Homo sapiens: one gene and its partners. The protein of the gene in region 4 interacts with the protein of the main gene of each other region in a biochemical or structural test. Each region holds a gene or a part of one and is shown on either strand. Other genes may lie near its edges.

What was found.
Region 1: the proteins of CFTR (region 4) and PRKAA1 form a complex in vitro, tested with the Homo sapiens proteins (2 studies listed by BioGRID, with this or other methods).
Region 2: the proteins of CFTR (region 4) and PDZK1 form a complex in vitro, tested with the Homo sapiens proteins (2 studies listed by BioGRID and IntAct, with this or other methods).
Region 3: the proteins of CFTR (region 4) and NHERF4 form a complex in vitro, tested with the Homo sapiens proteins (2 studies listed by BioGRID and IntAct, with this or other methods).

What each region holds. Positions count from the first base shown.
Region 1 is NC_000005.10:40,766,678-40,774,374, reverse strand, and holds part of PRKAA1 (5'-AMP-activated protein kinase catalytic subunit alpha-1), read left to right. Parts: intron 1-2,511; coding exon 2,512-2,656; intron 2,657-4,871; coding exon 4,872-4,959; intron 4,960-5,437; coding exon of another isoform or gene 5,438-5,492; exon of another isoform or gene 5,493-5,939; intron 5,940-6,684; coding exon 6,685-6,909; intron 6,910-7,697. UniProt on the Homo sapiens protein: Catalytic subunit of AMP-activated protein kinase (AMPK), an energy sensor protein kinase that plays a key role in regulating cellular energy metabolism.
Region 2 is NC_000001.11:145,676,247-145,683,943, reverse strand, and holds part of PDZK1 (Na(+)/H(+) exchange regulatory cofactor NHE-RF3), read left to right. Parts: intron 1-1,307; coding exon 1,308-1,444; intron 1,445-2,836; coding exon 2,837-3,032; intron 3,033-5,298; coding exon 5,299-5,495; intron 5,496-7,697. UniProt on the Homo sapiens protein: A scaffold protein that connects plasma membrane proteins and regulatory components, regulating their surface expression in epithelial cells apical domains.
Region 3 is NC_000011.10:119,180,720-119,188,770, forward strand, and holds the start of NHERF4 (Na(+)/H(+) exchange regulatory cofactor NHE-RF4), read left to right. Parts: upstream 1-4,755; 5' UTR 4,756-4,775; coding exon 4,776-4,791; exon of another isoform or gene 4,792-4,909; intron 4,910-4,916; exon of another isoform or gene 4,917-5,202; coding exon of another isoform or gene 5,203-5,205; coding exon 5,206-5,233; intron 5,234-5,372; coding exon 5,373-5,446; coding exon of another isoform or gene 5,447-5,759; coding exon 5,760-5,971; intron 5,972-6,550; coding exon 6,551-6,740; intron 6,741-6,844; coding exon 6,845-6,981; intron 6,982-7,187; coding exon of another isoform or gene 7,188-7,199; exon of another isoform or gene 7,200-7,220; coding exon 7,221-7,425; intron 7,426-7,569; coding exon of another isoform or gene 7,570-7,601; exon of another isoform or gene 7,602-7,635; coding exon 7,636-7,832; intron 7,833-7,920; coding exon 7,921-8,051. Other genes in the region: NLRX1 (NLR family member X1 isoform 1 precursor), read left to right, coding at 452-538, 1,375-1,626, 2,399-2,720.
Region 4 is NC_000007.14:117,608,589-117,616,285, forward strand, and holds part of CFTR (cystic fibrosis transmembrane conductance regulator), read left to right. Parts: intron 1-1,930; coding exon 1,931-2,081; intron 2,082-2,992; coding exon 2,993-3,220; intron 3,221-6,024; coding exon 6,025-6,125; intron 6,126-7,640; exon of another isoform or gene 7,641-7,697. UniProt on the Homo sapiens protein: Epithelial ion channel that plays an important role in the regulation of epithelial ion and water transport and fluid homeostasis. Mediates the transport of chloride ions across the cell membrane.

The DNA of each region.
Region 1 (7,697 bases), on a different chromosome or scaffold from region 4:
CATTTTTTTAGTCTGCTGTTATTTGCCTCACAGATATAATAACCTAGTCTGAGGATGGCATTTTAAAAAAAGTCTTCCTCTGTTCCGTCTTGTTCTGTACCTTCTGTGCTCTCTGCATTCATTTTATTCATTTTTGTCTTTGATGCATGGCCCTTCTTCAGATATTTGGTGATTCTTGGCTGTCCACTAAATATTTAAGAATAGGGTATTAAATGCCAGGCTCATGTGGGTAGGACTTACTGATTGCTGGGTTTTCTCATAGCTTGAATAGGTAGGGACTTGTCTGTTTTATTACTGTATACCAAATGCTAATAATAACAAATATGTTTTCTTGGATCAGATATTTGCTCCAGAAGAAACCTTCCCATTTCCTTAAAGGCCTTAGCTTAGCTGCCAGTGCTCCAGGAGCTGAGTGGAGAAAAGAGATGCAAGTCTCACTAGTTAGTATGTTGACTTTGTCTTAGCCCCCATGTTTTCCTTAGGATGCCTTATCCCTGCCTTGGTGTCCTTGAGAGCAGAGCTGGTTCAGCCTTACTAGAGTAAATTATAGGTCTTATTCCCCAATATGGGTGAGTTTAAAAGCTTCTTACTTCAAGCACTTGTCCTGTTTTCAGCTCATCTCTCACTTCTACCTTGAGCAGTTCCCTGTGTTTCCAATTTCTAAGGCTTCCCAGGCTTTGTATGCAGATGTTTATTTTTTACTGGTTTCTACCCCTATAGGCTTAGGTTTTAGCTTTCTCTTGTAGGCTTAGTCTTTATTACTGTTTATCTATTGTCATCCTTGGTGACTCCTCTTGATTACTGCTGTCTCTTTTGTTCTTTTTGTCTTTATATGCCTGTTTTATTGCTGATGTCATTTTAGTGATGTTTCAAGAGTTGGAGACAAAAGATTTAATCTGTTACATTTAATTGGAAATGTATTTTGACTTTTCTAACCTTCCTTTATAGACATCCCTTTCTCCATCCTTTGTAATTGTACTTGTTACTAATACAGTATAATTTTCATTTTTGTAGCCTGTCTATTTTACTTTTTATATTTTGTTTAATCAAGTTTTCTCCTATTTTTTCATATTTGAACAGATACTCTTTTTTTTCCCCATGAACCTACAAATCTAGAAATAAAAGTATTAGAATGCTAAAGGATTAGTATTTTTCTAGAGGAATGGTATCTTATAATAGTTTCTTGTTTCAAAATAAATTACTGATTTGTATTTTCTCCCATATTATCCATGCCCTTTAAGGTGTAAGTCTGGTTTTAGAATGCTAATTTGTGACCTGTGTTAGAGAATTGCATATTGGAGTCCTTCGCCTAGAGGATTAATAGCTTATTTATTAAATATGACTTCTTGGGAGCAGGCATGTCCAAGTAATGGCTGTCACTTATGTTGAAAAAAGTGGTAATAATATATGGATACATAGAGAAGTTTAAAAAAAATACTTCAGGCTGCATGCAGTGGCACATGTCTGTAATCTCAGCACTTTGGGATGCTGAAGCGGTAGATTGCCTGAGCTCAGGAGTTCGAGACCAGCCTGGGCAACATGGCAAAGTCCTGTCTCTATCAGAAATACAAAAATTAGTGGGCGTGGTGGCATGTGCCTGTGGTCCCAACTACTTAGGAGGCTGGGGTGGGAGGATTGCGGGACCCCAGGGAAGCCGAGGCTGCAGTGAGCCGTGATGGCATCACTGCACTCCAGCCTGGATGACAGAACGAGACTGGATCTCAAAATATAGATAAATTTAAAACCCCGCCCCCCCAAAAAAACACAAAAAACAAAAATGAAAAGGTAGTTGCTATGTAAGATTTTTTTTTTAGCAAGCATATTAAAGATAAAATGCTATGATATTTTATTAAATGAATTAAGGTGTTTGTTGTTAAAATGTCTTCTATTTTAGGACATATAGCAACATAGTTGCTTGCTGGTTTATGAATAGTGCTTAAATATTACTTCCTCATGGTCTAAAATAGTGTCCCTCACCCCACTATCACTCACTGCACCTATATTTTGCTTTATTTTTCTTCAAAACAGTATCACTCCTTCTGACTATATTTATTAGTCTATTTTCATCAACTAGATTAGCCTTTGTTTTATTCATTGCTGTGTAATGAGTGTCTAAAGCAATGTGTAGCACGTTGAAGGTATTCAGTAATTTGTTAAAAGAATGAAAGAGTAAACATTTGCCGCTTATAAAAGGAAATATGCCAAATTTCAAGTAGATATTGAAATTATTTGAAATAACTCATGAGATATAGAGGAAGGCAAGCTGTTACAATGTAGTCATATGCAAATGATAATATTAGAAACTTGAGTTACTGATTTGGGTTCCAAGACCATCTTAGCATTTCTGTTTTGTGCTGCAGGTATCTCCTCCTCATGTCAAAAGTATCTCATAAGTGAAGTTCATTGGGAAGATTTTCATGTATTTTGACAATTTTATAGGTTGGAGAATTATAGATAGGACAATTTACTTTGAAAGACACACCTTTAAAAAGCCTCTCTAACTTTTCTTAGCTGGATGAAAAAGAAAGTCGGCGTCTGTTCCAACAGATCCTTTCTGGTGTGGATTATTGTCACAGGCATATGGTGGTCCATAGAGATTTGAAACCTGAAAATGTCCTGCTTGATGCACACATGAATGCAAAGATAGCTGATTTTGGTAAGGATAATTTTATAGTTTCTTAACGTTCATTTCTAATGTTCTTATAGTTTCAATGAACCTACCTAGAATTCTTCAGATAACTGTAAAAGATTACATAAAGTAATAGACTGAGTATATCAAAGTATTCTGTTTTGTCTATGAAGATACAAAAAGAAGAAAAGCTAAGAAATCATCTTTTCTTAGCTTTAAATGTCTTTATTACTATTATTTTATAGAGGCAGGGTTTCGCTTTGTCGCCCAGGCTGGAGGGCAGCGACGTGATCATAGCTCACTGCATCCCCAAACTACTGGGCCAGGTGACCCTCCTGCCTCAGCCTCCTGAGTAGCTGGGACTGCAGGCGTGCACTACCATGCCAGGCTGTTTTGTCTTTTTGTAGAGACAAGTTCTCACTATGTTGTCCAGGCTGCTCTTGAACTCCTGGCCTCAAGTGATCTTCCTACCACAGCTTCCCAAAGTATTGGGATTACAGGTGTGCACCACTGCACCTGGCTCTTTAAATATCTTTAAAATTAAATTTTAAACAACTTAAGTTGGTAGTATTAGAGAGACTATTTGAAAAGAGTATTATTTGTGAAAGAGAAGGTAGCAGCTTTATTTCCAGTATGTTCAAAAGAATCAAGTATGGAGAAGAAGGAAAGTGAGTGGGATGGAATTATTTAAAACCTTAAAAACCAGAAGTGAACTATGTGAATTTAATTATTTAAAATTATTTAAAACAATTTTTTAATTAAAAAAATTTATTTAAAAATTTAAAAATGTTTTAAATGATAGTAAATTATAATTTGTTTAAAGAACATTTTGATTGTTAAAAATGAATTTATTTTGGCTGGGCGTGGTGGCTTATACCTGTAATCCCAGCATTTTGGGAGGCCGAGGCGGGCGGATCACCTGAGGTCAGGAGTTCGAGCCCAGCCTGGCCAACATGGTGAAAACCCATCTCTACTAAAAATACAAAATTAGCTGGGCATGGTGGTGCGTGCCTATAGTCCCCACTACCCTGGAGGCTGAGGCAGGAGAATTGCTGGAACCCAGGAGGTGGAGGTTGTAGTGAGTTGAGATCGCCTGTCCGGCCTGGGCGACGGAGTGAGACACGGTCTCAAAAAAAAAAAAAAAAAAAAAGAATTTATTTTTTCTGTATTTCCTATATAAATTGCCATTGACCTTACTAAACCTAAGAGAAAAAGGAATCTCTTCTTTTCTTTAGGTTGGTTTTAGTTCAAATCAGATAACTTTTTTTTGTTTGTTTTTTGTTTTGAGACAGAGTTTCACTCTGTCACCCAGGCTGGAGTGGTACGATCTCGGCTCACTGCAACCTCTGCCTTCCAGGCTCAAGTAATTCTCCCACCTTGGCCTCCCAAGTAGCTGGGACCACAGATGTGGGCCACCACATGCAGCTATGTTTTTTTTAATTTTTGGTGGAGATGGGGAATCACTATGTTGGCCAGGCCGGACTCGAACTCCTGAGCTGAAGTGATCCGCCTGTCTTGGCCTCCCAAAGTGCTGGGATTACAGGCGTGAGCCACCATGTCTGGCCCAGAGAACATTCTTATAAAAATTTTCCTCAGTTTTGACTACATCTATGTATCTATATCTATAACTATATCTATTTAAATGTTCAGAGATTAACTGGAAAATGCCAACCAAACCTGAGCTGGTTGTTTTGGTGTTTTGTTTTTTTTTAAAATAGTAATTGGCTAAATTATTTGAATTTCTTATTCCTCAGTTGATTATTTTTATAGGGTGCATTTTTGAGGGAGCAACAGTTTCTTTTTGGAGTAAAACTGTGAGGGAACTTTGAAATTCAAAATTACTGTTTTTTTTTTTTTTTTTTTTTTTAAAGAATCAGAACAGGCTTAATAGGAACTTTGAATTTTAATCCTTCTATTCATCTGTTATAGATTATTTTCCCTAGTGATTTCTGTATTAATAAAACTTAAACATGGCAAGTTTTTTCTAATAAGCAAAATAACCAACAGCTTAATATATTTGTATTAAACTCTAACAGTGCACTAACTTTAAATGTTGAAATAGATTACACATTTTAGGGCATAATGGCAGAATATTTGGCTACAATAGACCATAGGATTTTGTTGAAGCAAATAACAAAATGATGATTTATCATTTTAATGCAAACTCAATTTTATTGTTTAATGGGATTTTAATTTTTGTCTTTGGGAAATCTTTTGAGTAGCTGATTTTGTGCACTTTCAGGTCTTTCAAACATGATGTCAGATGGTGAATTTTTAAGAACAAGTTGTGGCTCACCCAACTATGCTGCACCAGAAGTAATTTCAGGAAGGTAGTATTTGATACCCTGCCTCCCTCAATACATTTGAAATTGTCTTTTTCTCCTAGATTTTGTTAGTCTATAGTGTCATATTTAATTCTAATGAAAGGAAAGAAAGATAAGGCTTATTCTTAACCACATTTATATGTGAATGAGGGTTAAGGACTACAAGTCAACATTATATTAAAGTTGTTAGAAGAGAGTACATTAATTTTTTTCCCAGGTGGAAGAAATGGAAAGTTTAAAACTAGGGTGTTTAAAAAGTAGGTAAGACACTGGAAACTTGAATAATACAGAAATATCTAGTAGTTAGAAAAGGATTACTATTTACTTAGAGGAAAAATTAAACATGTAATGTGTAGCTTTAATTTTTTACATAGATGGCATTTTGTAGTACCTTTATGTTTCATGATAAAATGTCTTGGGGAACTGGGCTGAAGTAATCTTTAGACTTCATTTATGTTGAATCTTTGTTCTTTAAACCTTTTAGAGACTGCAATATTATAAGAATTTTAACCTCTCAATTTACTAACTACCAGCATTGAGAACATGAAGATATTTGTACAGTGTCGCTTTTTGAATAGTTTGGAAAACAGGAGAATTTAATATTTTTAAGAATAACTCTTTGTCCTTCACTATACTACTGAAATTGAAAACAGAAGCTGAAGTTTGCTAGATTTATAATGAACTTTTAATAACTTTTCACCCAAACCATGCTTATTTGTGTGAATGTTTTGCATCTTGATTAACTCAATGCAGAAATACTGTAGTATTTTCTATTTTTATAAGCTTGTTGGCCTAGACTGCTCAAAGAAATGAGATTTGTGTAAAAATATGGCTGTGAGTAAGGCAGGAGTACCTAATTTTAGATTTGTCAAGTTTCATCTTTTTTTTAAATATTAACTTAATGTCAAAAATTATTTAAAAAATTTTTAAAAAAATGGTGTTGTCTATCTTAATTCTTTTAGGAATAAAACAATTCAGGACATGGAGACTGTGGAAAGTTGTTATTTAAATAAATAAAAAGAAATGTTATAACTGTGCATATATGCAATGGGCTATTACTGAAATTTAATTTTTCTAGTTTGGATAAAGTCTTTCTTCAAGCTCTTGGTGTATGAGAACTTTTACTTTCAAAATAATATTTATCGATCAGTTCAGCAGTACATAAATTTAAAGAAATCCTTTTCCTGAATCCAGGCTTTGAATGGGTGATCTAACTAGTCTGCAGCTAGTTAAGGCACTTGACTACAATGCACTGCAAACGGGATTTAAAAACTCTGTGAACCAATTTGCCTGGCTTTCTTTCACAGCCTCAGGATCCTTTCACCTTGGTGTAAGGGGTCTTGTGTTATTGGGATTGTGGGCTCAGAGTCCATTACTAAAGAACATTCTCAGTTGATGAAATATCACTTAATCTCTCCTCTGTAACAAAAACCAATGGTTTTAAATTGAATAGTGATATGTTTGTTCAAGATTTGGCCCTATTGTCAGATCCCATCAGGGCCATAGTAAATAGTAGAACAGAATTTTAGCCATGGTGTGTAATTTACAAACTTCTTGACTTTTGTTTTCAAAGATAATACTGATGGAATTAACGTTGTAACATGTAGTAGTGGCTATAAAAACCATATTCTGCTTAAGAATTCTTTATGAAATATCCATATTTGAAGTTTTTGATGAACTGAATCTTAGGTTAAAATGATTCTTTAATCCAATTGTTATTTCCTGTTACAGATTGTATGCAGGCCCAGAGGTAGATATATGGAGCAGTGGGGTTATTCTCTATGCTTTATTATGTGGAACCCTTCCATTTGATGATGACCATGTGCCAACTCTTTTTAAGAAGATATGTGATGGGATCTTCTATACCCCTCAATATTTAAATCCTTCTGTGATTAGCCTTTTGAAACATATGCTGCAGGTGGATCCCATGAAGAGGGCCACAATCAAAGATATCAGGTAATAAAGCAGTTTGGAAGTTATCAGATCTGATAGTATCCATGATAAAAGTTATGTGAAAAAAAAAAAGTTGCAGAACAGAATATACAGTGTAATCCTGTTTTTATGTGAAAAAAATAGAGTGTATAGACACATTTATTTTATTTTGTTATTAGAAATACATAGTAAACTGGTTACCTTAGGGAAGTAAGATTCGTAAGAGGGAGGGCTTTCACTTTTTACTTACACATCTTTGTTTTGAAATTTTTACAGTGAACATCATATTACTTTTTAAATTAACAAAAAAGCTAATGAAAGATTGGTGCTGTGGCTCACACCTGTAATTCCAGCACTTTGGGAAGCTGAGGAAAGAGGATCATGTGAGCTCAGGAGTTTGAGACCAGCCTGGGTAACATAGCGAGGCCCCATATATATGTATATCTTTTATTTTTATTTATTTATTTTTTTTGAGACAAGGTTTTGCTCTGTCACCCAGCCTGGAGTGCAGTGGTGTGATCATAGCTCACTGTAGCCAGTAACTCCTGGGTCAAGTGATCCTCCCACTTTAGCCTCCCTAGTAGTTGAGACTACAGGCATCCACCATCATGCCTGGCTGTTTTTTGTTGTTATTGTTTTGCTTTTTGTTTTTGTTTGTAGTGACAGGTCTTGCTATTTTTGCCCAGGCTGGTCTTGAACTCCTGGCCTCAAGTGATCCTTGTGCCTTTCCCTCCCAGTGTTGGGATTACAGGTGTGAGCCAGTATGCCTGGCGTTAGGATTAATACTTTTCAGTAGTAAATTTGTGGGTGGC
Region 2 (7,697 bases), on a different chromosome or scaffold from region 4:
ACCGGGGAGGCAGAGGTTGCTGTGAGCCAAGATTGCGGCCCTGCGTTCCAGCCTAGGTGACAGAGCGAGACTCCATCTGTTAAAAAAAAAAAAAAAAAGGCTGTAAAGTGCTTCTATTAAGTGAAAAGTTCTCGATTTAATAAGGAAAGAAAAAATACTGTATGCTGAGGTTGCTAAGATTAGCTCAGTTATTGTTAATCTCTTACTGTGCCTAATTTATAAGTTAAACTCTATTGTAGGTATGTAAGCACAGGAAAAAACATATAGGGTTCGGTATACTATCTTAAAGTTTCAGGCCTCCACTGGGGGTCTTGGAATGTATCCCCCATGGTTAAGGGGGAACTGCTCTATTAATATCTTTGAAGAATTGACAGCATTTCTATAAGTAGCACCTAAATCTCACCACCTAAATGCATTCGGGTTCTTCCCTCCCTCCTGTGCCTGTCCTTGTTAGCCTACATTGGTGAGATGACTCCACAGCATACGATGGCTAATATAATAGTACAAACTGAAGAGGAGAGAATGGTAAAGATGCTTTCTGATTCTACAAATGCAAAGAAAGGGCGTATGACACAATAATGCAGTGTGGGCATGTTTTAGCGCTTTCTGGTTCAAGGGGCCAAGGCCACCCAAGATTCCATCTTTGCATTTAGCTGACCTCAGAAATTCTATTCAAATCAACAAATACCCACTGAGTAAAGGCTGTGTCAAGTTCAGTGCCAGGACCTATAACTGTGATTTTAGATCAGAAGCCAAAGGCCGAGTTAGCTCTAAAATCGGAAGTTTGTTTCACATTATTGGGAGAAAAGTCTTTACCATTGGATTTCGAGTTTTTCTTTGCAATGGAGTGTTCTGTGAAAGGGTGGTGTATGCAAAGCAGTCCCTCAAAGGCCAAAGGAGCTGAGAAACCAAAGGACAAGGCAGGCAAATCCAGTTTGTTGGTACATTGGAATTTATCAGGGGAACTTACGAACAGAAGCATGGTCTTGGACAGCCACAAAACATGTAGATCTCTGTGTTACTCCCCAGACCCAAGGCTGATATACCATAGGGAAAGGGTATATGTGCTCCAGCAAGACAATCGAAGGCAGCCCTCCGCAATAGCCAAGAATGCTATAGTGCATCATAGCCTATAATTTGCGTGATAACATTAAGGTTGACATGTTCTTAGACTAGGGACAGTAAATGAAGTAGAAATCGGGAGGCAATCACAGGACTGGGGCTAATCAGAAGTCAACATCACAGATTACCATCCAAGAGGGAGTCACTTGTGTCTCCACATGGAGTTTACCCCTACTCTCTTCCAGGTAAAAAGGGGGTGTACATGACTGATATTACACCTCAAGGTGTGGCTATGAGAGCTGGAGTTCTGGCTGATGATCACTTGATTGAAGTGAATGGAGAGAATGTAGAGGATGCCAGCCATGAGGAAGTGGTTGAAAAGGTATGCCCCAAAGGGTACTTTTCTTACCCTATCTTCCACTCTATTCTCATTGGAGGTGACAGGAAGACAGGGGTGGTAGGGGACAGCATGAGTTTATGATGGAAAAAATATCCAGTTGAGTTGCCCCTTCATATTAAGGGTGAACAGACTCACACTAGTGGTATAAGCAGTGTTAATATAGGGTTTTGGAATAAAGCCTTCCCTAGTTTCACATGAGGTCTACAAAATTATTAACTTTACCTTTTGGATCTTGTTTGTATCTGATTGGGAGCCCCCTCTGAACTGTTTGATTGAGACAGGGTCTCACTCTGTTACCCAGGCTGGAGTGTAGTGGCACAATCTCGGCTCATTGCAGTCTCGGCCTCCTGGGCTCAGATGATTCTTCTACCTCAGCTTCCTGAGTAGCTGGGACTACAGGTGTGCACCACCGCACCTGGCTAATTTTTATGTGTGTGTGTGTGTGTGTGTGTGTGTGTGTGTGTGTGTGTGTTTTGTAGAGATAGGGTCTCACTATGTTGGCCAGGCTGGTCTTGAACTCCTGAGCTCAAGTGATCTGCCCGCCTTGGCCTCCCAAAGTGCTGGGATTATGGGCGTGTGCCACTGCGCCCTCTGAATTTACAATAAGTTCACTGTTGAGCCGTTAATACTGAAATGCTTTAATAGGAAGTGGGAGATAACCGAGATTTTCCTTTGAGGTCATATGGAACCTTAAAAATTGACCAACCTTCTCTTTGTAGAATGATTTTTTGACGTGGACCCTTACTTTCTTTTCTTTTCCAAACTCCCTTTCTAGCTTTTATCTAGGTACCTTTATGGGTTTTCTGAATTCCAGCTCCTACTTGGGCTCAGTTAGCACCTATGTGGGTAGGTCATACTTAAATAAGGGAAAACAACTATAGAAGTGGAGATAGGGGCCGGGCGCGGTGGCTCACGCCTGTAATCCCAGCACTTTGGGAGGCCGAGGCGGGTGGATCACGAGGTCAGGAGATCGAGACCATCCTGGCTAACAAGGTGAAACACCGTCTCCACTAAAAATAAAAAAAAAAAAATTTAGCCAGGTGCGGTGGCGGGCACCTGTAGTCCCAGGTACTCGGGAGGCTGAGGCAGGAGAATGGCGTGAACCCGGGAGGCAGAGCTTGCAGTGAGCTGAGATAGTGCCACTGCACTCCAGCCTGGGCGAAAGAGTGACACTCCATCTCAAAAAAAAAAAAAAAGGCGATAAATACATATCAGTTAGCTGGTAGGGCATAGTGTAACAGCTTAAACTCAGGCCTTTCATCCCCTATCTTTTGTTGAACCTAGAGACTGTGTGCCTTTATACAGAAACTTTCTTATTCCCCAGCATTGTTCTTGGGGGTTGATGTCATTCCTCATCTGTGTGTGTTGTTACAGGTGAAGAAGTCAGGAAGCCGTGTCATGTTCCTGCTGGTGGACAAAGAAACTGACAAGCGTCATGTTGAGCAGAAGATACAATTCAAAAGAGAAACAGCCAGTTTGAAACTGTTACCCCACCAGCCCCGAATTGTGGAGATGAAGAAAGGAAGCAATGGCTATGGTTTCTATCTGAGGGCAGGCTCAGAACAGAAAGGTAAGGTACAAGAGCAGGAAACTTGGCAGTAACCAGCAAATTCCTCATCCCATTCTGACTCCAGAGTTCCATTAGGTTCCCAACTCCCAGCCAGATGCATGAGCGGCATAGCATAGAAGGCACAGCTGGGTCAGCGTCTATGTCACATGAGGGTCTGATGTTGGGCATCAAAAGTTTCCATAGCATTATGATAAGGCAGAATTTGGGATCTGGGCAACGGTATCCTGGTAAGTTAGCTCTCTGGGGCGGGGGTGGGGGGAAATCCAAATTGGTAGCGTTTGTTTTTGGTACCAAATTGGTAGTATTTTGTGATGTAAATACTCCTCCCATGTCCAGTTTCAACTTACTAACACGATGTCACTGAACACAATGAAGTGTTGCACAGAATTGGCTTTTGTGAGCCGGTGTGAGCCAGTATAGCACACCGCTGGACCTGAGGCCGAGGTGTGGGTGAGGATTTGGGACTCAGAACCAGGAGTCCTCCTTCCTTGCAACTCAATAGGAAGAACACTAGGTTCTTTCAGGGAAGGTAAATACATAAAAGAACATGAGTTCGGGCCGTATAAACTGCTATTCGCCCATAAGTTGTTATTTTCTTTTCACTCTCTGTTTACATTAATTTATCAAATATTAATTTGGTTTGTGTTTTGTAAAAACATCCTCAGTGCCTTGGAGAAAGAATATCATATGAAGCAGACAGGAATTCTTTAGTGAAGGAGTCTACCATTTAGTAGATAAGAGATATGTCCATAATGAAGGGAGATAGAGGTTAAGTACCTTCATACAGGGGCAGATCAAGCACTGTGATAATTCAACGTTAGAGTAAGCTTTTCTCACTAAAAAGGTACCAGAAGCCCTCATAGTAGGGGTGGCACTTGAGTTCAGGCTTTGTAACATGAATAGATTTGGGAAAGTAGACAGAGCTGGGATAAGGAAGATCATTCCAGGAAGGTGGGAATCATGTGAACACAGTCAGGAGACACTGGCACAGTTTAATTGGCACATGATGTGTAGTACAAGAATTCGTTGGAAAGGTAGGTTGGAGAGAGGTGACAAGGGGACTTCTATGCAAGACTGATGAGTTTGAACTTGGCTTATCAGACAATGGGGAGTTGTTTTTTGAGCAGTATAAGGGAGAAGAACAAAAACCAGCCTATAATGTCTTGGGGGCTTTGCACATCTCAATTACTCCTAACAATTATGCAAGAAGAACTGCTGAAATTGAGGGCTTGGAGAAGATACAGTAATTATGTAAGGTCAAATAGTTGTTTAGTTCCAAAGCCCATGCTCATTCTGTTGCACCAGGAAGTGACTTGGTTAGGAATGTGCACCAAGATGGATCTGAAGGCAGATCTGTATCAGACAGAAGGACTGGGGAAGGGAAAGCAGTAGGTAAGGTGCTGTAATAGTTTAGGTAGAATTCTAGGCAGGAACTAATACAAACTGCATTCAGGGTAGAGGAAGTGGGATGTGTAAGGTATTATGGTAGCATCAGAGGACTTAGCAATCGTCTAGATATGGGGACTGGATGCTGGGGAAGAATCAGTTGCCAAGTGTTGGTGACTGGGATGATGTTGCTCCACTAACAGGTAACCAAGAGGAGGGGCTTTGGGATGGAGAATGGGCAGAGCTGATTTTTGGCTTGAATACATTACAGTTGAGAGATCTATGAGATATTTTGTTGGAGATACCCAGCAGCTAGCTGGAAAAGTGAAACAGGAACTTGTTAAAAAAAAAAAAAAAGGCAGCATCTGGTGAAGATACCAGAAGGCCAAAGCACATGGAGGCATGTATATACAAATATATTCAAAACCGAACACACCCAATTGCTACTAAAATGCCAGCCTGGGTTTCTTAAGGTCCAAAGTTTTGGGTTTTGTTCTTTATTCTTCCCCATCTTTTATGACAGCTTTTACATAAGACGCGTGGCTACAAGTATGCCCACTGACTTTCTGGGAACTTGCAGCCTTTTAATATGCTATTTTGCCAAAATCAAATGTCAGACGCTTTTAGTAACAGGATTATTTTCGTTAAGACCCCTTCATTGTTAATTGCTGGGTTAGTTTCTGGGGTGAGTTCTGAGCAGGAAACGAGCCTAGATAGTGTGCTTATAAGCTTCCTGGGATGCTGGTGGAAGGGGTGGTAGTTGTACTCAGCATGCCTTTTTTATCTGTTTCATCAGGGCTTTGGGCTCCAGCAGAAAATCTGTTTTATTTTTTTAGGGGACTTACTGATAATTTTATTTTTTGGGGTTGGGGGAGGGTAGGTCAAATCATCAAGGACATAGATTCTGGAAGTCCAGCAGAGGAGGCTGGCTTGAAGAACAATGATCTGGTAGTTGCTGTCAACGGCGAGTCTGTGGAAACCCTGGATCATGACAGTGTGGTAGAAATGATTAGAAAGGGTGGAGATCAGACTTCACTGTTGGTGGTAGACAAAGAGACGGACAACATGTACAGACTGGTAAGTAATACAAGGCCATATATTCATGCATTAAGGCTGGGCCCATTCACTCATGACCTCAACTTTTGCACTGAGTTAGGACTTTGTTCCTCAAACTGGAAGAGGCATAACAATCATCATTAAGGCTAAACTGAAGCTCAACTCAAATTGGTAGTGATAAGAGAATGCCAAATGATTGATAAATGAGTTTTAAGTCCTTGGTCTTAAGATTTTGAAAGAATTTGTGAATATAACTGCAGGCTTACTCTTGGTGATCTGAGAAAATCTATGGAGAATATAAGCCTGGAAATAAAATTGTTCCCAAAATAGGAAACAATTAGATTTTAAGCTTTAGGTCAGTTAAGTGCTATCAACTGCACATAAAAGCCTAGAAAGGATTATTAAACAACTTGTAAGCCCTTAGCAAATAAAAAAGAAACACAGATAGACCAAGACCAACCTGAATCAAACTAACTTTATTTTCTCTTAACAGCTCTTTATCATAACACCCACTACTGCATGTTTTAAGGTTTTTTTTTTTTTTTTTTTTTTTTTTTTTACTTTTAACACAAGAACTGAGGTTGTCTAGTTTAACAGATAACCTGGGGGGCCTTCTAAGTACCATCTGTCTTGCTAAGTGTTGATTGTAAAGATGAACAAGATAAATGTCCTCTGTGATATACAATGATAGTAGAATCTAAAATAAGCGGTACAGAGGGGGGAATATGATGGGTGGTGATATCTTAGGCCCTCCTCATAGATTAGGAAACCGAAGCTTAGAGAGACTAAGCACTTTGCTAAAGTCACGCAGCTTAGTAAAGACTGAAGGTGGTATCTGAACCCAAATTCTTGGACCCGTAATTCATTATACCATACTCCCCAGCACATTTTTTCAAGATAATCTTGTAAGCAGGATTAAACAATTAATTAGATTAATGGCTTTTTTTTTTTAGCTACTTGAACAATCATACCTAGAAAATACTTGATATCAACCTGAATATCAACTTGAATAGAAGTCTCTAATGGCATGCTACTTGTTCCTAACCGTTTATGTGCTTAAAGTTGAAAGGAGATATGGAAAATATATTAACATACTTAAAGTGGCACTAGATAATTCATTTGCTGGATGGTGTAATTAATACTCAAAATATTTAGTTAGGATAGAAAGAATGAAAACTAAAGAAATAAGAATAAATTTCAGATGTACTATACTAACCTAAAAGTAAATTGTATGAATACCACATGGTGAGACCTGATTTGAGGACTACAGAAAAAGACCAGAAACTTCATAGTCCAAGTGGTTGCCCCATCCAAATATGGTAATTTAAAAATTAACTGACAGACACTTGGCTTCTAGAGATGACCATCTTACTGTACTTACTTGGTCAGACCATACTTGGAATACCTGGTAATATAGTTACCACCTCTCTCTGTGCTTCAGTTTCCTTAGTTGTAAGAGAGGGGTAGTAGCTACAGCGAAGGGTGGCTATGAGGGTTGAATTGGAATATTCAGAGCATGTAGAATAATGCCTCACACATCTAAATGTTCTATTTGTTCAATCAATATTGTGTCCGGTTTCAAGAACTTCACTTTAAGAAGGCAATGACAAGGGTAACCAGGGAAGAGGTTTTGGAAGCCACCATGTGAGTATTTAGCTTGAGTAAGGCTTTGGAGAAGAGAGCATCTTCAAGAATTTGAAAGGCTATTACATGTAAGAAGGAGCACACTTTTTTTTTTTTTTTTTGAGACGTTGTCTTGCTCTGTCACCAGGCTGGAGTGCAGTGGTGCCATCTCAGCTCACTGCAATCTCCACCTCCCGGGTTCAAGCGATTCCCCTGCCTCAGCCTCCTGAGTAGCTGGAATTACAGGTGCGCACCACCATGCCCAGCTAATTTTTTGTATTTTAGTAGTTTTACCATGTTGGCCAGGATGGTCTCGATCTCCTGACCTTGTGATCCGCCCGCCTCGGCCTCCCAAAGTGCTGGGATTACAGGTATAAGCCAACACGCCCGGGCCACACATTTTTTTTAAGGTGTCCTATGGGGCACAACAGGACCAGAGAAGCCATAGGGAGCTAGCTTTTGGCTTAAGAACCAACTGAAGCTGCCAGAAATGATGAGTCATTTTGCAGTTGGTGGAAAGTCAAGCAGAAATCAGAGGCGGCTGCTGCAGCTGTTTGTTGTAAAGGGGATTCTGACCCCTCCTGATCTTATCATAGAATG
Region 3 (8,051 bases), on a different chromosome or scaffold from region 4:
CTAGTTTGGGTGGAGGTGACAGGAGCAACAGAAGGGAGGAGCCAGGCATGGTGGCTCCTGCCTGTAATCCCACTGCTTTGGGAGGCCAAGGCAGAAGCATCACTTGAGCCTAATAGTCTGAGACCATCCTGGGCAACATAGCAAGACCCTGTCTCTACAAAAAATTAAAAAATTAGTCAGGTGTGGTGGCATGTAGCTATCATCCCAGCTACTCGGGAGGCTGAGGTGGGAGGATTGCTTGAGCCCAGGAGTCTGAGGCTGCAGTGAGTTGTGATCATGCCATTGTGCTCCAACCTGGGCAACAGAGTGAGACCCTGTCTCTCAAAAAAGGGGAAGCAGGTATAGATTCCCAGAGGCAGGCTGATGAAAAAAAGGCATGGTAGATGGACAGACTGCCTGCTGAATTCCCTCCCTGGTCTCTCACCTCCCCTCTGGCCACCTTCTGCTCCAGCTTGCAACTCAACAGCCTGGGCCCTGAGGCCTGCAAGGACCTCCGAGACCTGTTGCTGCATGACCAGTGCCAAATTACCACACTGCGGTGAGTGACCTGGGAGTGGGGCATCCTGGTGGCCAGCTAAGGTCAAGGGTGAGCTCCCTGCTTCCTGACATACTTGGCACAGACCCACCCAAGGGATAGTAAATGGAGGAGAGTCTAGGCCCTGACCTGTCCCCTCCACTTCCCCCAGGTCCACTGCAAGCAGCAGGGCAGCAGGGAAACATGCCACCTGTAATGGGTGCTAAGAAACCTCTCACGTGGCTAAAATCAGCCTGGGGGAGGTGGGGAGAGAGGGTGGAATAATACCTAGGCCGGTTGCCTGGTAACAGTGCCACTGATCCCCTCCCAGGATTTTTCTTGCAGCCTCCCGAGGAGGACCCTAATGCTGGGCACTCAGTAGACACCCCTTAAGTGTTGACTGATATGTGGGGAACCTGAGCTCCTGGGTTCCCAGTTTCTGATTGGTGTAAGGGGAGGCAAATGAGGAGAGAAAAAGGAAGAGCAGGGAGAAGGATAGGGGAGTCAGAGGGGAGGGAGAAGCAGAGGCTGTGGAGGGGGTGAAAAAGGCAGAAAAAGGGAAACGGAAATGGTGAAAAGGAAGGGAATAGATAAGAAGGGAGTCAGGGGAAGAGGGAAGGAAAGGCCAGCTCCCCTACTCTGACTCCTCTGCCAGGCGCCACACCCCCTATTGCTCCAGCCTTTCTCCTGGGCCTGCATTTCTATGTCCAGGTTCCTCTTGCCCCATGCAGGGCCCTCTTTGGCCCAAGTCCTGACACCCAGCACAGGGCTGCCCCATTAAGGCTGCCAGTACCACCCCCAACCTTGCCTCCCCCTCCTCTCAATGAGCCCTCATAACCTTGGGTTGCACGTGGCTGTAGGCTGTCCAACAACCCGCTGACGGCGGCAGGTGTTGCCGTGCTAATGGAGGGGCTGGCAGGAAACACCTCAGTGACGCACCTGTCCCTGCTGCACACGGGCCTTGGGGACGAAGGCCTGGAGCTGCTGGCTGCCCAGCTGGACCGCAACCGGCAGCTGCAGGAGCTGAACGTGGCGTACAACGGTGCTGGTGACACAGCGGCCCTGGCCCTGGCCAGAGCTGCCCGGGAGCACCCTTCCCTGGAACTGCTACAGTGAGTCCTGTCCCTGGTCCCATTGCCCCCAGCCCTTCAGACTACTTCCCTCTCTCAACTGTGCTCCTCCAATCCTAGGGAGTGCTTCTGGGCCTGGGCCTGGTGCCTGTCCTTTATTCCTGGTTTCTGACTGATCCTTGTCAACCTAGCTCTGAGCCAACCCACCCCCTCTGTGACTGGCGCTTAAACTGCACCAATTCCCTACCACCATTTCTCCTAAAGCCCTACTGTCTCTGGTCCCACTGAATTCTAGTATCAGGGTCGGCTGTGGTGGCTCACGTCTGTAATCCCAGCACTTCGGGGGGCCAAGGCGGGCACATCACCTGAGGTCAGGAGTTCAAGACCAGTCTGGCCAACATGGTGAAACCCCGTTTCTACTAAAAATACAAAAATTATCTGGGTGTGGTGGTGCGCACCTGTAATCCCAGCTACTTGGGAGGCTGAGGCAGGAGAATCACCTGAACCCGGCAGGTGGAGGTTGCAGTAAGCCGAGATCATGCCACTGCACTCCAGCCTGGGTGACAGAGCAAGACTCCATCTCAAAAAAAACAAAAACAAAAACAAAAACAAAAACAAAAAAAAAAAAGAATTTTAGTATTAGTCCCTGCCTCCCACTGGCCAGCAGCCTCCACCTCTGGCTCATTGCAGTTACCTGATCGCACTCTGCAGCCAGGAGATGAGTTGTGAGGCCCCCTGACTTTCCATCCATCTACCCTCGGGCCCTCCTTCTCAGAGCTCTACTGAATGGCATCGACTTTCTCTCTCCTGCCAGCCTCTACTTCAATGAGCTGAGCTCAGAGGGCCGCCAGGTCTTGCGAGACTTGGGGGGTGCTGCTGAAGGTGGTGCCCGGGTGGTGGTGTCACTGACAGAGGGGACGGCGGTGTCAGAATACTGGTCAGTGATCCTCAGTGAAGTCCAGCGGAACCTCAATAGCTGGGATCGGGCCCGGGTTCAGCGACACCTTGAGCTCCTACTGCGGGATCTGGAAGATAGCCGGGGTGCCACCCTTAATCCTTGGCGCAAGGCCCAGCTGCTGCGAGTGGAGGGCGAGGTCAGGGCCCTCCTGGAGCAGCTGGGAAGCTCTGGAAGCTGAGACACTGGCGGCAGGCACCTAGCTATGTGACCACTGGCCCTAAACCTTTTCCCTCTGTGGCCTCCTGGCTTGCACTGCTCCCTCTAGAAAGATTCCTTCAGGTCTGGAGGCAGAGGAATGGGCATAGCTGAGCCAGTTGCCCTCCTAGGGCATGTTTGACCAGGACTGAGTCTGGAATCTCCAAGTTAAAGATGGTGAATCAATGCTTCGGGCTTGGAGATGGAACATGCCTCCTCTCCATTCAGCTAGAAGGACCAAAGCATGTGGCATTTGGATGGCCAGAGTGCCCTGAAGCACCACTACCAACCTTGCCTCCCCCTCCTCTCAAAGAGCCTCTGACTGTGTCACCAAGGGGCTCACATCTTATGTCTGCCATGCCAGGGGTGTCGCCATCCAGATGTGTTGGAAGCTTCCCCTCCTGCCTTATGCTCACCTGTGGACACCGAGGATGCCCTCACATTGGTGCTTTCTCCTCATCCTCATGCCCCCTTTGCCACAATGGTATGATGGCTTGGTAGCCCCTCGAGGCAGATGCACCTGACTTGCTGCTATTAAAAAGCCGTGTGCCTTCTACCAATTGTGGCCTCTTCTTTACTGCCTGGTGCTTCCAAGAAAGGGCACTGTTCTTGGTCTTTCTGGTTAAACTACCAACCATGATCTATTGCAAGTGGTTCTTGGGCACTAGGTTCAGAGGCAGTGGAGGCTGGAAGGGCCCATGAACAAGATATTGGCATGGGGGTTGGCCATGCTGGGCTGTATTAGTCCAGTCTCACGCTGCTAATAAAGACATACCCAAGACAGGGTAAGTAATTTATAAAGGAGGCTGGGCATGGTGACTCACGCCCGTAATCCCAGCACTTTGGGAGGCCGAGGTGAGCGGATCACCTGAGGTCAGGAGTTTGAGACCAGCCTGACCGACATGGATAGACCTCGTCTCTACTAAAAATACAAAATTAGCTGGGTGTGATGGCACATGCTTGTAATCCCAGCTACTCGAGAGGCTGAAGCAAGAGTATTGCTTGAACCCAGGAGGTGGAGGTTGCCGTGAGCCGAGATAGTGCCACTGCACTCCAGCCTGGAGAACAAGAGTGAAACTCTGTCAAAAAAAAAATTTATAAACGAAAGAGGTTTAATTGACTCACAGTTCCACATAGCTGGGGAGGCCTCACAATCGTGGCAGAAGGCAAATGAGGAGCAAAGTCACATCTTACATAGCAGCAGGCAAGAGAGTGTGTGCCGGGGAACTCCCCTTTATAAAACCATCAAATCTCATGAGACTTATTCACTATCATGAAAACAGCACGGGAAAACCTGCCCCTGTGATTTAATTACCTCCCACCGGGTACCTCCCATGACACGAGGGAGTTATGGGAGCTGCAATTCAAGATGAGATTTGGGTAGGGACACAGCCAAACCATACTATGGGCCATAGAATTATCACCCTTTTCACACTTACCCCCCAGGCTTGGAGTTAGTGACCAGCAATCTGCCTTTCTCTGCACAGAGGGGCAACTGGGTCAGATTCAGGGTCTCCAGAAAAAGTTGGGGCCCAGGGATAGATTCAGGAGGAACCCACACAGTTTTCCAGAGGATAAGACTCTCAGCGGGGCACGGTGGCTGACGCCTGTAATCCCAGCACTTTGGGAGGCCGATGAGGGCAGATCACCTGAGGTGGGGAGTTTGAGACCAGCCTGACTAATATGGAGAAACCCCATCTCTACTAAAAATACAAAATTAGCCAGGTGTGGTGGTGCATGCCTGTAATCCCAGCTACTCGGGAGGCTGAGGCAGGAGAATTGCTTGAACCTGGGAGGCAGAGGTTATGATGAGCCAAGATCATGCCATTGCACTCCAGCCTGGGCAACAAGAGCTAAACTCGGTCTCAAAAAAAAAAAAAAAAAAAAAAAAAAAAAAAGACTCTCACTCCCGTTAACCATTACCCCACTGCTTCCACAGCGTCTTCAAGGAGGCGGGACCTGGGAGGGGATGGGTGGGAGGATCAGTGGCTGTGATGAACCTTGTCCCTACCCCGGGCACTGGGTTGCTGATCCAGCTATGGAGAAAGCCGCAGGTAGGAGGCCAGGAGAAATCCTCTGCAGGGGACTTTGGGACAGGCAGGGGGCCGACTTGGAGGCTGAAGCTTTGGGACCAGGGCACACTTGATTTTGGGGCTTGGAGCCCTGAGGCAGGTAAACAAGTCAGGAGAAAAGTAATGAGTTGATATGTCTGTCTTCCTGGTCCACACCCTGTACTGATATGCTCAGATTTATGTGCCAAGGACTTGGGGGGAGAGAAAGGGAGGGGACCGCACAATAGTCCTGTGTGTATGGCAGTGAGAAGAGAAGACCCCTTTGGAGCAGAAAGGAGGGGGCATGCCCTGAGTTTGGGGGTTTCCCTGAGTCCTTTTAGTTTATGCCAATGGAAGAGGCACATCTGGGGAGAAGAATGTGACTCTCCTCCTCTCACCCACTTCTTTGCCCAGTAGATCTGCAGGACACAGCCTCGTTAACTCTGTAAGTGCCACGAGGGTTGGGGCAAGGGGAGGAAATAATTGGAGGCAGCGAAGCGCTTCACTGCCATTAGCACCTAAAGGAGATCCTGGGACCCAAGTCCAGCTGCCAGCTTGTACCTGCTTCCCCTGCCTCCTTGCAGGAAGTTTAAGTTTAACCCAAAGCTGGGCATTGATAATCCTGTCCTCTCCCTGGCCGAAGACCACGACCCCTATGGTAACTCCCTCACCCCCTGGCAACCATTCCCTATCCCTGGAGGCACCACGGCTCCACACGGCCTCCGATCTCCTTGGTAACCACTCACTCGGTCTCCCTCTGATAACAGCCTTGGTTGGGAGTAGAGATAGGAGGGGCCGGGTGTTTTCTCCTGTCCCAGTCCCTCTGCCCACGAACCCCACCACCCAACACCCAACCAGGCAGAAACTGCCCAGCACCCTATCAGGACACAGGGTCTGCCAGGCACACGGCGAACCTGTACTTGGGCTGTGCCCTCTCCTCCCCCTTTTCTGCTGCCCACCTCACCCTCCAGATCCCTGGAGCCTGGAGCGGCCTCGCTTCTGTTTACTGAGCAAAGAGGAGGGCAAGAGTTTTGGCTTCCACCTGCAGCAGGAGCTGGGCAGGGCTGGGCATGTGGTGTGCAGGGTGGACCCAGGCACCTCTGCCCAGCGCCAGGGTCTTCAGGAAGGAGACAGGATCCTGGCGGTGAACAATGATGTTGTGGAACACGAAGACTATGCGGTGGTAAGGCTGTGGTCCAGGAGAGCATGCTAGCACCTCAGAAAGAGAAGCGGGTTGCTCAGTCCCCTGGGCAGTATGGCAGCAGGGCACAAGCCTCACTCCCCCACACCCCAGGATTTAGAAGTGCCCAAGTCAGAGGGGTAGGGAAAGCATCTAGAAAGCCGATTCCCGCTGGGCGCAGTGGCTCACGCCTGTAATCCCAGCACTTTGGGAGGCCAAGGCAGGTGGATCACCCAAGGTCAGGAGTTCAAGACCAGCCTGGCCAACATGGCAAGACCCTGTCTCTACTAAAAATACAGAAATTAGCTGGGCGTGGTGGCAGGCGCCTGTAATCCCAGCTACTCGGGAGGGCTGAGGCAGGAGAATCACTTGAACATGGGAGGCGGAGGTTGCGGTGAGCTGAGATCGCACCATTGCACTCCAACCTGGGCGACAAGAGCAAAACTCCATCTCAAAAAAAAAAAAAAAAAAGAAAAAGAAAAAAAGCCGATTCCCTTGGCAAAAAAATGTGGATTCCAGGGAGGTCCTGGGGGTTGGCAAGAGGGTCTAGACCAAACCCACGCCCACGTGCCCTCTGTCCAGGTGGTACGCCGCATCCGGGCCAGCAGCCCTCGGGTGTTGCTGACAGTATTGGCACGGCATGCACATGACGTGGCCCGAGCTCAGCTGGGAGAAGATGCCCACCTCTGTCCCACCCTAGGCCCAGGGGTCCGGCCCCGGCTGTGCCACATAGTGAAAGATGAGGGTGGTTTTGGCTTCAGTGTCACCCATGGTGAGCCCAGAGGGTGCGAGGGGGCGGCAAGGATGAGGGATCTCAGCCCCTGTTCAGGGCAGGCAGGAAACAGACTGGACCTTGCTTTTTTTTTTAATTTCTAGGCAATCAGGGTCCTTTCTGGTTGGTGCTAAGTACTGGAGGAGCAGCTGAGCGGGCAGGGGTGCCCCCCGGGGCCCGGCTGCTGGAAGTGAATGGGGTCAGTGTGGAGAAGTTCACTCACAACCAACTCACCAGGAAGGTGTGACTGCCTGTCTCCCACTCTCCTCCCCCAATCCGGGCCTGGGCCCCACCTCGGGAAGACGCCTCCTTCCCCATGCGCCTAACCTCCTTATCTGGTCTCCTACCTTTATCACCATCCTCCCCCTCTACAGTTTGTGCCAGGCTCCACTTAGTGCCTGGGAGGAGGGGCTGTGGGGGGAGCATACCTCTTCTCTCCCTGCCCAGGTGTTATACTGATGCCCTGCTGGGTCCCCACAGCTTTGGCAGAGTGGACAGCAGGTGACCTTGCTGGTGGCAGGGCCAGAGGTGGAAGAACAGTGTCGCCAGCTGGGATTGCCCCTGGCTGCACCCCTGGCAGAGGGCTGGGCACTGCCCACCAAGCCCCGCTGCCTGCACCTGGAGAAAGGGCCCCAGGGTTTTGGGTTCCTGCTCCGGGAGGAAAAGGGCCTTGACGGTCGCCCTGGTGAGTGGGAGCCCTGGGGGCGGTGGGGGAAGGTGGGCCTTGGGGTGGGCACACAAGCGTATATACACCTTTCAGTGCACCGAAGAGGTGTCCCTGTCTGAGCTCTGGCCCTGGGCCGCCTCTTCCCGTTCACTCTGGGGTCAGTCCCCTGGTGTGTACACAGTGGCCTAGGATAGCTGGAGAGGAGCAGTGAGGATGTCTATGCCCCAGGACAGTTCCTGTGGGAGGTGGACCCGGGACTGCCAGCCAAGAAGGCTGGGATGCAGGCTGGGGACCGGCTGGTGGCTGTGGCTGGGGAGAGCGTGGAGGGGCTGGGCCATGAGGAGACAGTGTCCAGGATCCAGGGGCAGGGCTCCTGTGTCTCCCTCACTGTCGTCGACCCTGAGGCGGACCGCTTCTTCAGCATGGTGCGTGCTGAGGGGCAGGGGCTAGGGTTGGGGCAGGAGTGGGGCAGGGCTGAGGTCCGAAAGATTTGCTCTCCCTGCCACCTTCCAGGTTCGCCTGTCCCCACTCCTCTTCTTGGAGAACACAGAGGCTCCCGCCTCGCCCCGGGGCAGCAGCTCAGCCTCACTGGTTGAGACAGAGGACCCTTCACTTGAAGACACAAGCGTGCCTTCTGTCCCTCT
Region 4 (7,697 bases):
ACCCATTTTATTTGTAAGAGAGTCTCATATTAAGGAAGCATAATATATGACAATCCAAATACAGTACAAATTTGGTTAATTTTGATTTTGTTAAATAATTAATCACAGGGGTCCTTCAAATTGTGAGCTCCTCTGGTTATACTTATGTTTTACCTCTGGTTATACTTAATTTCAAACAAATGAAATTTCATTCTATTCATGATATTTCAGAAGCAGATCTGTTGCACAAAATAAAGCATACCTATAAATTTTCTTTTTTTAAAAAAAAGTCTCTGTTCACTCTATTTTCTATTATTTTTCTCTTTTTAAAATTTGAATTTTATTGTGGCAAGTCCACTTAACATGAGATTTACCCTCTTAACAGATTTTTATGTGTAAAATACAATATTGTTCACCATGGGTAAATGTTGCACAGCAGATCTCTGGAACTTATTCATTTTGCACTACTGAAATTTTATACCTGTTGATTAGTATCTCCCCATTTCCCTCTCTCCCCTGTCCTGTTACCCATGGTTCTGTTCTTTGCTTCTTTGAGTTTGAGTATTTTGATACCTCATGTAATCTTCATTCTATTTTCTAACTTTGACAATGTTCTGACAAATTTGCTTTCCGGATTGGAGCACTGTATAGTGAAAATTGAAAATCTTGGTTATTTTCTACAGATTCCCACTATTTTACCTTGAGCAGACACTTATCTTGAAGGGTCTCAGATTTGTCACTTGTAGAATGGGGAATATAAACCTGATAATGGTCCCTTTCAGTTCTAAAGTTATATCAGTTGAAAATACATGTGTCACTTATGGTAACGGGTAGAGAACTGGCTCACTGAACAGCATATGGATATTATAAAGTGGTTTTTTTTAATCCTTTCTGCAGACAGTTACTTTATACTTTATTCAAATGGATTATTGTGAAGTACATGTTAGCGGACTTTGTACCTTTTAAAAATGTATGTATTTGGTGTAATGTAGAAATATAGAAATTTATTAAGTATGATTTATTTCAATGTTAAGCATGAGAAAATATGCTCCGAAAGGTTAGATAGCTTGCCTAAATGACAAGCTTGTATTTCAAGCAGAACTTTCTGAATCAAAAGACTCCAAGACGAATGCCCAGCTTTCAAAAACTGTCTAACCAAAATAAATCCTAAGATTCACCTTCATACTAAAATTATTTAAAAATAGTTTATTTTAAATTAATATTCACTTAAAATGTATTTATCATGCAATACTTTAAAGTGTCTGGGAAATGAAAATATCCAAAGATCAAAGAACACCATGTTTTCAAACTTCAAAAATGTTATCAGTGACCTAAACAATTTTTAAAATTTTCATAGAGCCTATGAAAAATGTACTTGCAAATGGCTACTTTCTGACTAGGAATAGAATGGGGAGAGTATTTAGTCCAACAATGATAGACTGGATTAAGAAAATGTGGCACATATACACCATGGAACACTATGCAGCCATAAAAAATGATGAGTTCATGTCCTTTGTAGGGACATGGATGAAATTGGAAAACATCATTCTCAGTAAACTATCGCAAGAACAAAAAACCAAACACCGCATATTCTCACTCATAGGTGGGAATTGAACAATGAGATCACATGGACACAGGAAGGGGAATATCACACTCTGGGGACTGTTGTGGGGTGGGGGGAGGGGGGAGGGATAGCACTGGGAGATATACCTAATGCTAGATGACGAGTTAGTGGGTGCAGTGCACCAGCATGGCACATGTATACATATGTAACTAACCTGCACAATGTGCACATGTACCCTAAAACTTAAAGTATAATAAAAAAAATAAAAAAAAGTTTGAGGTGTTTAAAGTATGCAAAAAAAAAAAAAGAAATAAATCACTGACACACTTTGTCCACTTTGCAATGTGAAAATGTTTACTCACCAACATGTTTTCTTTGATCTTACAGTTGTTATTAATTGTGATTGGAGCTATAGCAGTTGTCGCAGTTTTACAACCCTACATCTTTGTTGCAACAGTGCCAGTGATAGTGGCTTTTATTATGTTGAGAGCATATTTCCTCCAAACCTCACAGCAACTCAAACAACTGGAATCTGAAGGTATGACAGTGAATGTGCGATACTCATCTTGTAAAAAAGCTATAAGAGCTATTTGAGATTCTTTATTGTTAATCTACTTAAAAAAAATTCTGCTTTTAAACTTTTACATCATATAACAATAATTTTTTTCTACATGCATGTGTATATAAAAGGAAACTATATTACAAAGTACACATGGATTTTTTTTCTTAATTAATGACCATGTGACTTCATTTTGGTTTTAAAATAGGTATATAGAATCTTACCACAGTTGGTGTACAGGACATTCATTTATAATAAACTTATATCAGTCAAATTAAACAAGGATAGTGCTGCTATTACTAAAGGTTTCTCTGGGTTCCCAAATGATACTTGACCAAATTTGTCCCTTTGGCTTGTTGTCTTCAGACACCCTTTCTTCATGTGTTGGAGCTGCCATTTCGTGTGCCCCCAAACTCTACTTGAGCTGTTAGGGAATCACATTTTGCAGTGACAGCCTTAGTGTGGGTGCATTTTCAGGCAATACTTTTTCAGTATATTTCTGCTTTGTAGATTATTAGCTAAATCAAGTCACATAAACTTCCTTAATTTAGATACTTGAAAAAATTGTCTTAAAAGAAAATTTTTTTAGTAAGAATTAATTTAGAATTAGCCAGAAAACTCCCAGTGGTAGCCAAGAAAGAGGAATAAATATTGGTGGTAATTTTTTAAGTTCCCATCTCTGGTAGCCAAGTAAAAAAAGAGGGTAACTCATTAATAAAATAACAAATCATATCTATTCAAAGAATGGCACCAGTGTGAAAAAAAGCTTTTTAACCAATGACATTTGTGATATGATTATTCTAATTTAGTCTTTTTCAGGTACAAGATATTATGAAATTACATTTTGTGTTTATGTTATTTGCAATGTTTTCTATGGAAATATTTCACAGGCAGGAGTCCAATTTTCACTCATCTTGTTACAAGCTTAAAAGGACTATGGACACTTCGTGCCTTCGGACGGCAGCCTTACTTTGAAACTCTGTTCCACAAAGCTCTGAATTTACATACTGCCAACTGGTTCTTGTACCTGTCAACACTGCGCTGGTTCCAAATGAGAATAGAAATGATTTTTGTCATCTTCTTCATTGCTGTTACCTTCATTTCCATTTTAACAACAGGTACTATGAACTCATTAACTTTAGCTAAGCATTTAAGTAAAAAATTTTCAATGAATAAAATGCTGCATTCTATAGGTTATCAATTTTTGATATCTTTAGAGTTTAGTAATTAACAAATTTGTTGGTTTATTATTGAACAAGTGATTTCTTTGAATTTCCATTGTTTTATTGTTAAACAAATAATTTCCTTGAAATCGGATATATATATATATATGTATATATATATATATATATATATATATATACATATATATATATAGTATTATCCCTGTTTTCACAGTTTTAAAAACCGATGCACACAGATTGTCAGATAGCAATTCTGTGATTGAAGGGGAAATATGTCACCTCTTCATACTCATATTGGTGAAGGGTCCTAGCTTCAAAATTAATAGATTCCTAAAGAGGGGAAATGAAACATCCGCATTTACACACACACACACACACACACACACAGAGTTCCTCTTGTCGGTAAGTTTTGTTTTTTTTAAATCTCTACTAGATAAAATTTGTTATCTAATTGTGAGTTTTACACAAAGAAAAACTGTCACAGAAAAGAAAGACAGTGTCACATTTTTCAAAAGAAAAAGAAGAAAAGAAAGTGCCATGTTTTTCAAATACAAATGTTCTGGATTGATTTTAGGATCTTTAGTGAAAAACAAAGTATTTCATAATAAGTAAAATAAAAATCTATGTAGGTAAATTTGTTTCTCTAATTTAAGAATTTGAATTTCTGAGTATTTATGATAAGTGTTGAAATAACTTCTTATATGTGACAGTGAATACTGGCAGAGCAAATGCCAAATCAATGCCAAATCTGTAGGATCATTTGATTGTAGGAACAGAATTCTACTCAAACCGAAAGCAGGCATTTGCTGGAGTTACAGAAAGGCCTCATGGAACACCGAGAAGGTGGTGCCATTCGACTCTTAAAGAAGCTGCAACAGGCACAAGAGAGTCAGCTGCAGCTCTTCTTCTTGAGTCTATATCTGTCCTGGGTCCATTCCTTTTTGTGGTTGCTTCATTCCTTTCTCTCTCTGAAGACTGGTTTTTCTGGTCTACCAGGGCTATGCCACATTGACTTTATGTAGTGTCTCCATTCTGGCCTCCTGAATTTACAGGAGAGTTCCTCTGTACAAACTCAAAGTCCTGGAGAGAACAGAAAACAGCTTCCTTTTGGCTCAGGGGTCCAACTGCAGTCTACTCTGCTGCTATGAGGATAGTGGGTTCACCACCTTTGTTGTTCTCTCAGCTAGGGCAGTGGGAAATGACTCTATGAAAGGAATATACATGGGCAGGCAAATGTACTAATCCTCATCAGTACTGTAATTTTAAGCAACTTTAAAAAATTCTTTTAAGTTATTTGAAAATAAGATCAAAGAAGGCTGAATTACATAAATGAAGATTTGTTAACAATTAATTCAAACCAATATAACACATGCTATAACATGGTTGAGTGTGATTGAGTCTTGATTTATTAGGGGCAATAATCAAAACATTTAACAATCATTATAGTACAGAACTTACCAATCAAATCAGATGCTCAGCCGGAGTGGATGTTGGCCACCCAGCTATTATTATCCCTGGCTCAATTGGTCTTCAGCTGTGTTAACTTGCAAACATTAATTAACTATCTAAGCCCCTCATTTTCCTCAAGTGTAAATAGACACAATAATATTACCTATTCCATAGGTGTGGGGTGAATAGTAAATGTAATAATTTGTCCAAAACACTTAGTATAGTGCCTGGTCCATGGTAAATACTAAATAAATGTTATCTGACTTATTATTAAAATTTTATCTTCTCAGCTTAACCTTCAGAACAGTAATATATTGGGGTCTAGATAAATCTTGCCTATATGAAAATAATTTAATACTACATGCAGATATATGCTGTGTATATTATGCCTTCTGTTAGAGGAATTGCAGAAACAAAAATTTCAATTAATAATAAGATGAATTATTTCTCCCAATTGTAGAATCTTTTGACAATTTTATCATGCATTACAGATGTAAGAACTCTTGATTGGGACTTGATAGTCTAACTTTATAATAATTTAAGAACATTCCTCTTAGAGAATTTCTATGGCCATAATACTGAACACATGAATTTTAATTAGCTGTCCTCTTTAGCCCTAAAAAAAAAATTACTGTAATTTAACACTTAAGTGTTGTTCTTCCCAGGTACAGTAATCTTTTTTTTTTTTTTTTTTTTTTTTTGCATAGAGGGTAATCTTTTCTCTTTCCAAATGGCAGAACTGTTAGTTTTCTGACTGTCCGGTGAAATTCTAAGTCCACTTACTTCCCAATAGCATGCAATTAGCAAAGGTCCTCCTTGCAAAGGCACAGAACACACCTAAACATCTTGCAGATGCTGTTTGGACACTCTTCCCCTGCTTTTGGTCTCTTTGTAAAGCAGCTCATCTGGATACAGGATCTCTTTTCCCCATTGCCCATTCTAATATATGTTACCGTTATTACTTATAGAATAATAGTAGAAGAGACAAATATGGTACCTACCCATTACCAACAACACCTCCAATACCAGTAACATTTTTTAAAAAGGGCAACACTTTCCTAATATTCAATCGCTCTTTGATTTAAAATCCTGGTTGAATACTTACTATATGCAGAGCATTATTCTATTAGTAGATGCTGTGATGAACTGAGATTTAAAAATTGTTAAAATTAGCATAAAATTGAAATGTAAATTTAATGTGATATGTGCCCTAGGAGAAGTGTGAATAAAGTCGTTCACAGAAGAGAGAAATAACATGAGGTTCATTTACGTCTTTTGTGCATCTATAGGAGAAGGAGAAGGAAGAGTTGGTATTATCCTGACTTTAGCCATGAATATCATGAGTACATTGCAGTGGGCTGTAAACTCCAGCATAGATGTGGATAGCTTGGTAAGTCTTATCATCTTTTTAACTTTTATGAAAAAAATTCAGACAAGTAACAAAGTATGAGTAATAGCATGAGGAAGAACTATATACCGTATATTGAGCTTAAGAAATAAAACATTACAGATAAATTGAGGGTCACTGTGTATCTGTCATTAAATCCTTATCTCTTCTTTCCTTCTCATAGATAGCCACTATGAAGATCTAATACTGCAGTGAGCATTCTTTCACCTGTTTCCTTATTCAGGATTTTCTAGGAGAAATACCTAGGGGTTGTATTGCTGGGTCATAGGATTCACCCATGCTTAACTGAGTGGTGCCAAATTGTCCTCAAGTCTGTTGTACTGATATATATCCCCATCAAGAGAGTACAAGAATTCTCATAGCTATGTATCTTCAACAACACTTGGTGTCTGGTAGATGTGAAGTGATTACTAAAAATATAGGGAAGCTGCATACATAATTATTGGCTTTTGCTGTTCTCTTACATTAATTTCTTATTCATGTTGATTACTCATTTGTCACCTAGTTTTTTCTTCCTTAATTAAATTGTAGGAATTTATGAATTATGGATTGATCATCAGCTCTATACATTTCAAACATAATCCCTCAGTCAGTGGCTTGGCTTATAGAGTCTTTTGATGAAAAGAAGCTTTTAAGTTTAATAAAGTTCAATTTATTGTCTTTTCCTTTATGTTTTGTGCTTTTGGTATCTTGATTAAGAACTCCTTCCTTATATTGGGTTCTCAAATTTAGCAGCATAACATTTTCATACTATTATTTAAATTTTTTTCACATTATTTAGTGATAGCACCTTTCTTATTCCTAAAGTGTTTATCATTGCCTTCTGTCTTTCTGCTTGATAAATATTGCCACACATTTGTATACTTTATTAGTGTGTACAAAGACCACATTTTAGTTGTGTTATTTCTCTTGTTTTGGTTTTCTAGAATGCAGAGCCATTAATATTATAGTAATGCTTATGTGCTAATACCATATCAGGGGCACAAATCCCATTGCAGCGGGACTGAGAAATTAAAGGAAATGATGCACATTTACTCATTTTTGTTTAAAAAATCAAATGCATATTTTTCAATCAGACTATATGGTTGGTCTGGATAGCTTCATCATTGAATTTTTAAAGTATTTTTGTACTACTGTATTTAAAATTATTCATTCACCACTGCTTTTGTAGATGGTTTAGAAACCCAAGTTAGGAATGACTGTGCAACACTATTATTATACTCTTTTTAAAATTATACTTTTTGCTTAAGTTTCTTTCCTTGTTCTCTGAGACAGTGTTCATGTTCCCAAACCACACACATTTATTCAGCTATAAAATTTGTATGATCAACTCCTGTCAGAACAAACATCATTATAAAAAATATCTCCAGGAAAAAGAAAACCCTTTTAATGCTCTCTTCTGGTTCATGTGTCTTCTTATTTTCTTTAAGCATTTTCATAACCCATTGAGCTGTAATTTAATTGGAACATGATTTATACTAAAGTTGGTTTCTTTACCTTTAACTTTTTTTTTTAGTTTGATCAGCTCTCTTTAGCTTCTGTAGTTCGGTCTTT